Regions from separate parts of the Homo sapiens genome. Here region 2 is linked to region 1. Evidence: fine-mapped expression QTL. A gene starts in region 1. The other region holds a variant in brackets. All regions are shown on one strand. Distances are between the middles of the regions.

Region 1 (4,385 bases):
GAAGGAAGCCAGGAAGGACTTCTTGATGACCCTTTCACTGTAACCACAGAAGACTCAATTACATGTGTTTTCCTTAGGACTTGAGTTCCTTAAGGGTCGGGAACTCTCCATCCTACTCATCTCTGTAAGCCTGGCGCTAAGCACAGTGCATGGTACATGTTAGGAGCTCAGTAACCTTTTATTGATCTTTTATTGAGCTGTATCAGTGCCCCTGGTAATAGAGGGGGGTAAAAAACTTCAGGGACACACAGGAAGAAGTGACTAACTTGGCATAGGAAGCTGGATACATTGATTTTCAGAGGGACAATTAAGCTCAGTCTTCAAAGAGAAGTTCGCTTGGCAGAGCAGTGTCAAGATCTTCCAAGCAGAAGGAACAGCAGGAACTAAGTACTGAGATATGAAAGAGGGCAGCCACAATCTTTCCACGTGGCCAGGAGTCAGGTGCGTAAGAGATTTACAAAATGAGATTGAGAGGGTCAGGGCCAGACTGAGAGGCCACAGACACCCACCTACGGATTTAAGGCTAACTGTGGGTGGTCAAAGAGGAGTTTTAAATTTAACATCAGATGATCTACCTTTACTTTGTACAAAGTACTAGTAGGGCCGGGTGTGGTGGCTCACACCCGTAATCCCAGCACTGTGGGAGGCCGACGCGGGCGGATCATTTGAGGTCAGGAGTTCGAGACCGGCCTGGCCAACATGGTGAAACCCCATCTCTACTAAAAATACAAAAATTAGCCGGGCGTGGTGGCGGGCAGCTGTAATCCCAGCTCCTGGGGAGGCTGAGGCAGGAGAATCGCTTGAACTGGGGAGGCGGAGGTTGCAGTGAGCCGAGATCGGACCACTGCACTCCAGCCTGGGCGACAGAGCCAGACTCCATCTCAAAAACAAAACAAAACAAAACAACCAAAAAAAACAAACAGGCCAGGCGCGGTGGCTCACGCCTATAATCCCAGCACTTTGGGAGGCCGAGGCGGGCGGATCACGAAGTCAGGAGTTTGAGATCATCCTGACCAATAAGGTGAAACCCCCATCTCTACTAAAAAAAATACAAAAATTAGCCGGGCATGGTGGCGCGCGCCTGTAATCCCAGCTACTCAGGAAGCTGAGGCAAGAGAATCGCTTGAACCCGGGAGGCGGAGGTTGCAGTGAGCCGAGATGGCGCCACTGCACTCCATCCTGGGCGACAGAACGAGACTCCGTCTCAAAATAAAATAAAATAAATAAAAAATTGAAAGTACTAGTCGAAGCACGAATGGCAAAGAATTGAGAGGCTCAAGGAAAAAAGCTTCATTAGCGGCTGAGGTCCAGGTGACAAACCCGAACAAGGCAACGAAGGGAGGGAGTGAGAAATCCGTTCCATAAAACCCACGATATAAGTAAAGCGGCCTGTGAATTCCGACCACTGCTGACCGCCAGGCCACACACCGGTTTTTTTCAGGAGGTCTCAACTAGATGCTAAGCTCCGAAGTGGAACTCCCTCAGGCACTTTCTGTTCTAATTCAGGAATTCCAAGCCCCTTTCCATCACAACCCCATCCCGCGGGAGACCCAAGCTGTGCGGAGCAGCGTAGGGCTAAGCCCGCGTCCGGTGAGACCCGGGAACGCGGCGCGGGAGACTAAGGAGCAGAGTACAGAATTGCGCGTGCGCGCCTGCAGCACGAGCCCCGCCCCCTGGCTCTAAACCGGGTGGCGGGAAAAGGGACTCAGCGTTTCCCGAGAATGCCCCCATAGCTTCGAAAGGATCCCCGTGTCCGCTTAGCGCCCTCTCGCCACACACTCACTCACCCGCTCCCTGCGGGTCCTCAGAAGCCCGGAGGAGCCACCGGCCCTCTGGCGCGGGGCCGCAGCCTTTCCGCCACCAGGCTCAGCTGGACCGGTCCCCGCCTGCGCGAAGAGCGAGGCGGGGCGAGCCGGGCTGGTCCACGTGACTCCGAGCGAACTGGGGCGGAGATTGGTGAAGAAGGAAGGAAAAGGGAAGCGAGTGCAGGGACTGTTTTATGTGAGGTCGATCTAAAAATCACAGCGCTATGAATTTTCTGCTGAATTATAGTAGAATCAAAGTCCGATTAGAGGTGAATTTACAAACATTCTTCCCCTTCTTCTAGTCAAGCGGACTATTCCAAGTCTTAAATAGTTAGTTAGAAAAGTTAGGTTTTATTTGGGAGGAAGTAAAGAGCTGAAGTACAGGGAGGAATGGTCTTCTGGGATAGGGGATGTCCGTTGTATTATAGGTATAAATTTAAAGCTTTCAAAGTATGCAAGAGGCTCATAAAAGGAAGAAAGCAACCGTAAATATTCATTGAACAGTTGAGGGTCTCTTCTGGCCTCTGCTGAGATGATCTTGCCAAAAGGAAAAGAAAATAGGGCTGTGCTCTGGCCCCCTGTAATCCCAGCTACTGGGGAGGCTGAAGCAGGAAGATCGCTTGAGCCCAGGATTTCTAGACTGTAGTGTGCGATGATCGTGCCTGTGAATATCCATTGCACTCCAACCTGGTCAACATAGTAAGACCCCCTCTCAAAAAAAAAAAGAAGATAGGGCTCAAACAAATAATAATCTCCTGAATTATTAAGCATTTGAATAGAAGGAATCAATTTCTGGGGTATGAGGGAGTTAGAAGAGATTTGCTTCAAGATGAAAGGACGGATGACAGAGAAATGAAAATACACAGACACAAAACAAGAAAAAAAACACGGAACTAGTGATAAAAGCAGAAAGATGCCATTTGAGGAGTGTTTTGATTTGCTCTAAATAAATTAGAACAGAGTCAAAGCCTCTCCCCTCATGCCCCCTACTACCACCCGTTCATTTATTTGCTCCAGGAATCAGATTTCCTGTGTTGGCCTTAGGGAACAATTGTGGGGCTTAAATACCATCTGCCAGGCAGCCACAACAGTGGATGTCAGGCTGACCAGTTAAGCTGCTTAATTTTTCTAGATTCTAGGCTTGCCCAAGCTCTATTTAGGTTGGAAGCTCTTTGGCCCAGGACCTCTGAAGAGATCCATTATGTCAGAATGAACACAACCAGCCAGCGGATGTAGACAGGTTTACGTGGCTTTACAGAACAGCTAAATCCTAGTGTTCACTTTTCTCAGAGCTACTTCCCCACCCAAGTCCCTGGGGCAAGCATCCCTAAGATAAGTAGGCTATATATTCCCATTAACTTCCCCCCAATTCTTCGGTACACCTACATCCTGATCTGGGGCTAATACTCCGTTTTCACCACCCACCTCCCTTGAGTCCCTTCTCCTAACCCTTGGAAGCCTTGTCTCCTCCACTTCTCTCCATCTGCCTCGTGTGAGGAGTAACTCCCTGCTTCTCTGTTCCCTCAGAAATCAAGAGCCACACACTTGACTGGCAGCAGGGTAAAGGCCAGAAACTTAAGGTGTCGGTTACCCAGTACTCACCATACTGGGTCGAGGAAGGGAGGTATAGGATGGCACCTCTTTTTGCTTCCTTAGCTCTCATGCCCCAAAACTCAGACACAGCCACACTCACATTCATATGCACAATCAGCACACACGGCGAAGGGTGGTGGGATGGGGAGGAAGGGAAGTTTGCACCAACCAGCTCATGAATGCAACTTGAAAGATTTCACACAGCAAAAGGAAAAAAAAAAAAAAAACAACCACATACATAAGTTAAAAAATAAAGAAGTACATGACCCTCCCCACAGTCTCTTTCTTCATCTAGGGGCTGGCTAAACCCCTCCACGTAAACTCAGAAGCTTTCTACTCCCTCTATTCAGCTGGAGCTTCTACAGGGCCTGGGTGTTCAGTTCAACAGGTTCCCCTGTGACCTCTGGTTGTCCATTGGAGACATCGGGTTTGGCACCCTTGAGGACAGACAGTCTCTCAGAAATACTCTTGAGCCGGGGGAAGAGAAGAAAGTCGTACAGGAGGCTGCCCAGACCCCCTCCAATGATTGGGCCTACCCAGTACACCTGTAGAAAGAGAAAAGGAATACTCAGGCTTGGGGAGGGGACAGAGTAGCAACGCTGCTCTTTTTCCAGCCACCTTAGTGGAAAACAAGATATTGTACACTTGATATCTACAATAAACTCACCATTTATTTTCTGATTCATCAAATTACTCCTTTATCCCACACCTTAGCATGTGTATATTCTATTTGTTATCAATTTGCACTAGTTTGTATGTTGCTTTCAAAAAAATTTTATACATTGTGGTAAAACACATATAAAATTTACCATATTAAATATTTTTGGACAGGCGCAGTGGCTTATGCCTGTAATCCCAGCACTTTGGGAGGCTGAGACGGGCGGATCACAAGACGGGCGGATCACAAGGTCAGCCATTTGAGAACAGCCTGACCAACAGGGAGAAACCCCATCTCTACTAAAAATACAAAAAGTAGCTGGGCGTGGT
Region 2 (4,385 bases), 21 kb before region 1:
CGCCAGGCTAATTTTTGTTTGTTTGTTTGTTTTTTGAGACGGAGTCTTGCTCTGTTGCCCAGGCTGGAGTGCAATGGCATGATCTTGGCTCACTGCAACCTCCGCCTCCCGGGTTCAAGTGATTCTCCCACTTCAGCCTCCCAAGAAGCTGGGATTACAGGTGCGCATGACCATGCCTGGCTAATTTTTGTATTTTTAGTAGAGACAGGGTTTCACCATGTTGGCCAGGCTGGTCGTGAACTCCTGACCTCAAGTGATCTGCCCGCCTCAGCCTCCCAAAGTGCTGGGATTACAGGCATGAGCCACCGCGCCTGGCCCAAAATCTGTTTATACAAAGCAAAGTCTCTGTGTTTCCAGGATACAAATTCCTTGGAGTTTGCATTTTGTCCCAGGGTTTTTTTTATTTTAATGTGAACCAATAATTTTATTTTTCAGAGATAGGGTCTTGGTCTCACCCAGACTGGAGTGCAATGTCTCAATCACAGCTCACTGCATCCTCAAACTCCTAAGTTCCAGTGATCCTCGTGCTTCAGCCTCCTGAGCAGCTGGGACTACAGGTATGTGCCACCATGCTGGTGAATTGTTTTTGTTTTTTGTTGAGACAGAGTCTTGCTCTGTGGCCCAGACTGGAGTGCAGTGGCATGATCTTGGCCTACTGCAACCTCTGCCTCATGGGTTCAAGCAATTCTCGTGCCTCAGCTTCCCAAATAGCTGGGACTACAGGTGCGTGCCATCACACCCAGCTAATTTTTGTATTTTTAGTAGAGAAGGAGTTTTGTCATGTTGCCCAGGCTGGTCTCAAACTCCTGGCCTCAAATGATCCACCCACTGTGGCCTCCCAAAGTGCTGGGATTACAGGCATGAGCCACTGTGCCCAGCCTGTCCTAGGCTTTTCACTGATTCCACTTTGGGTTCATGGACAACTGTCACAATCCCAACTTTATGGATCTGGAGACCGACACGACCAGCTTGAGCTTATTCCAATAATAACCAATACAGGACTAGATTCCAGACTTTCTAAAGTTCAATTTAAGGCTCTCTTTGTGTTGCTGTTGAGACAGAGTCTCACTGTGTCACCCAGTCTGGAGTGCAGTGACATGATCTTGGCTCACTGCAATCTCCACCTCCTGGATTCAAGCGATTCTGTCTCAGCCTTCTGAGTAGCTGGGATTACAGGTGTGCATCAACACGCCTGGCTAATTTTTGTATTTTTAGTAGAGACGGGGTTTCACCATGTTGGCCAGGCTGGTCTTGAACCCCTGACCTCAAGTAATCTGCCCACCTTGGCCTCCTCAAGCGCGGGGATTACAGGTGTGCGCCACCATGCCTGGCCGCAATTTAAGGCTCTTTCCACCTCACCACAATGCTTTCAAGGTATAACCAGAAAATGCTATAGCATAATTATTAGACTCTAAAATTATGAATCCCCAGGGTTTTTGTACTTGGCATGTGGTAGGTGTTCAATAAATGTTTCCTGACTGAACTAAAATATTTATGGCAGATCAGAGATTATTCTAATGGGAGAAGGAAACTGTAGTAGACTCACACTGGCCAACACCCACAAACCTCTTGCTGTCGTAGTTCAGAGCACGTTTAACAGATGAACTTAAGCTGTACAAACTGTGAGAAGAAAGAGCCCCCCTTCCTTGACTCTCCCTTACAGCTCTTTCTACATTGTGGGGCTGCCCAGTACCTGCACCACCAGGTTCCCACGGCTCCGACAGAATCGCTCCAACATTTTGAGGAAGAGGTGGGTGGTCTCCACCAGGTCACGAAGGAAAGAGCGGGGCTGGCATCTCTCATCAAACTTTCGAAAAAGTGCCAGGAATAGTTCTCGGTACTCCATCACATAGAAAATATTGTCTAGGAATGGGGAAGAGAAAGGGATGGAAGGGCTATTCTGGAAAGCTTGAAAAGGAGAGATGGATGAAGCTGGGACTGGGAAGAATGAGATTCTCATCACGAGATGGGACAGGCTGGGATCGGGGACCAGGCCAGGGCCTCACTCTTGATGATGCGGCTGCTCTCCCTCACAGCCTCATCTGGAGATA[T/A]GTCCATCTCATTCACTGTTGCCAGCAGCTCCTGATAGGCCTTCAGAGCCAAGTGCATCCTGAGAGTTGACGGGAAACGGTGAAATGGAGGACAGCTTAGGGCAATGGCCCATGGAAACAGCAACTTCCCACAGCGAAAAAAAAAAATGTGCCACCCAAACTAAATTTCCCAGCCAGTCCTTGCTCCCCAGACTGATCACCTGAACCCTGAATCAGGAAAAAAGCACCAGCCAGAATTCAAGCATTCAGATCCCTAGCTCACTGTATCTCCAGTAACCATCCCACTCACCGGCGTGCCCAGGAGGCAGCTTCCTTGCGGTCAGTCAGCATCATCTCATAGTAGTTGGTGAGGTTCTGCTCAATGAAGTGGAAGGTACGGACACTGAGGGTCTCAGAAACCAGGCCTGGCCGGAAGGAGGCAGCTCGGTTGAAGGCCATGAAGAAAGCCAAGGCCCACATATAATAGGTCTCATCATGCTGCTGAGCTTTCTCCCGAAGCAGGTGATCCTGACATTTAAAAAAGAAAAAAAAAGATCACCATGACTCCAGGGCTTCCAACTTCTTCCTTCCTGTCCTATGATGATGGAATGGATGCTGGACACCGTCATAATTTTTTTTTTTTTGAGGCGGAGTCTCACTCTATTGCCCAGGCTGGAGTGCAATGGCATGATCTCGGCTCACCGCAACTTCCACCTCCTGGGTTCAAGCGATTCTCCTGCCTCAGCCTCCTGGGTAGCTGGGATTATAGGTGCCCGCCACCACGCCCAGTTAATTTTTTGTATTTTCAGTAGAGATGGGGTTTCACCATGTTGCAGGCTGGTCTCAAACTCCTGACCTCAGGTGATCCACCTGCCTTGGACTCCCAAAGTGCTGGTATTACAGGCGTGAGCCACTGCGCCTGGTCTTTTTTTTTTTTTTTTTTTTTTTTGACAGTCTTGCACTGTCATGATGAGGCTGGAGTGCACTGGTCTGATCTCGGCTCACTGCAACCTCTGCCTCCCAGGTTCAAGTGATTATCCTGCCTCAGGCTCCTGAGTAACTGGGACTACAAATGCACACCACCATGCCGGCTAATTTTTTTTTTTTTTTGTATTTTTTTTTTTAGTAGAGATACGGTTTCACCATATTGGCCAGGTTGGTCTTGAACTCCTGACCTCAAGTGATCCACTGCCTCAGCCTCTCAAAGCGCTGGGATTACAGGTGTGAGCCACCACGCCGGGACACCGCTATAATACTCTAGGATCCACAATTTCCAACTCTCTCCTGTTCTCCCTTTCCTCTCCCTCTGAGGCAATTTTTCCAGAGCCTCTTTTGTCATGCCAGGAGCCCACTCGTTCCTGGCATTTTCACTATCTCTCAGGGACATCCTAACTGTATATCCTTCCCACCTACGAGTCCACATTCCAGGGGCAGCCTCCCCGAGCTCCTCCCCACTTCTTACCCACCAACAGCTGCATCATCACCTGTCTATTCCATTCCTGATTATCTCCATATCCTTCACAGGTTCTCACCTTTACTGATCCCATGAGCCGGTTGTAACAGTTCTCCAGGAACTCAGAGCAGAAGTCTCTGAGGAAGAGCCTCACATTGAGGGCAGAACGGCGCTGAATGGACAGCTCTCGGGCGGCCTGGCGACGTTTAGGCACCTTTTTCGGCTGCTTTCCCAAATCTGAACTGTAGTTTCGTAGCTGGGTGTGTCGGTTGGGGGATTAGAATTACTCCTAAATACCACTTTCCCCTTGCAGCTCTCGTCAATTTTCTCAGAAGAAACTAATTTTTGTTTTTCTTTTGAGACAAGAACTTGCTCTGTCACCCAGGCTGGAGTGTAATGATGCAATCATAGCACACTGGAGCCTTGAACTCCTGGGCTCAAGGAATCCTCCCACCTCAGCCTCCCGAGTAGTCAGGACCACAGGCGGGTGCCACCATGCTCAGTTAGTATTTTTCACTTGTTGTAGGGACAGGGTTTTGCCATGTTGCCCAGGCTGGTCTCGAACTCCTGGGCTCAAGCAATTCTCCTTCCTTAGCTTCTCAAAGTGTTAAGATTACAGGCATGAGCCATTGTACCCAACCTTTAATTTAATTTTTTTTTTAGAGACAGGGTCTTGCCATGTTGCCCAGTCTGATCTTGAACTTCTGGGCTCAAGCAATCCTCCTGCCTCAGCCTCCCAAAGTGCTGGGACCACAAGTGTGAGCCACCAGGCACAGCCAAGAACTCTTAAGATGATTACCCTGCTTAAGCTATGCAACTCCACTATGTTCCCACTCCAGATGTAAGAATACTCACGTTGTGAAGGCCTTTGTGAAAGATGAGGTCCCTCTCCCCAATGGATT

The links. PIP is the estimated chance that this variant, and not a neighbour inherited with it, causes the effect. A credible set is the group of variants that fine-mapping cannot tell apart.
Region 2: its variant is the best candidate, but not a certain one, in a credible set for the expression of TIMELESS in iPS cells (PhLiPS, PIP 0.89).

Annotation. Positions count from the first base shown.
Region 1 is chr12:56,447,523-56,451,907 of GRCh38, forward strand. It overlaps TIMELESS (timeless circadian regulator), which reads right to left and starts at 1,904. Exons shown (of 29, transcript NM_003920.5): 1 at 1,788-1,904. It overlaps MIP (major intrinsic protein of lens fiber), which reads right to left. Exons shown (of 4, transcript NM_012064.4): 4 at 1,980-3,943. The coding sequence ends at 3,758. RefSeq lists enhancers at 785-1,305, 1,328-1,447, 1,558-1,647.
Region 2 is chr12:56,426,543-56,430,927 of GRCh38, forward strand. TIMELESS (timeless circadian regulator) reads right to left here. Exons shown (of 29, transcript NM_003920.5): 9 at 4,339-4,385; 10 at 3,563-3,739; 11 at 2,341-2,558; 12 at 2,007-2,110; 13 at 1,694-1,863. Among named protein-coding and RNA genes, the nearest start is that of TIMELESS, 21 kb to the right of the region's middle. The variant T/A (reference allele first, on the strand shown) is at 2,052.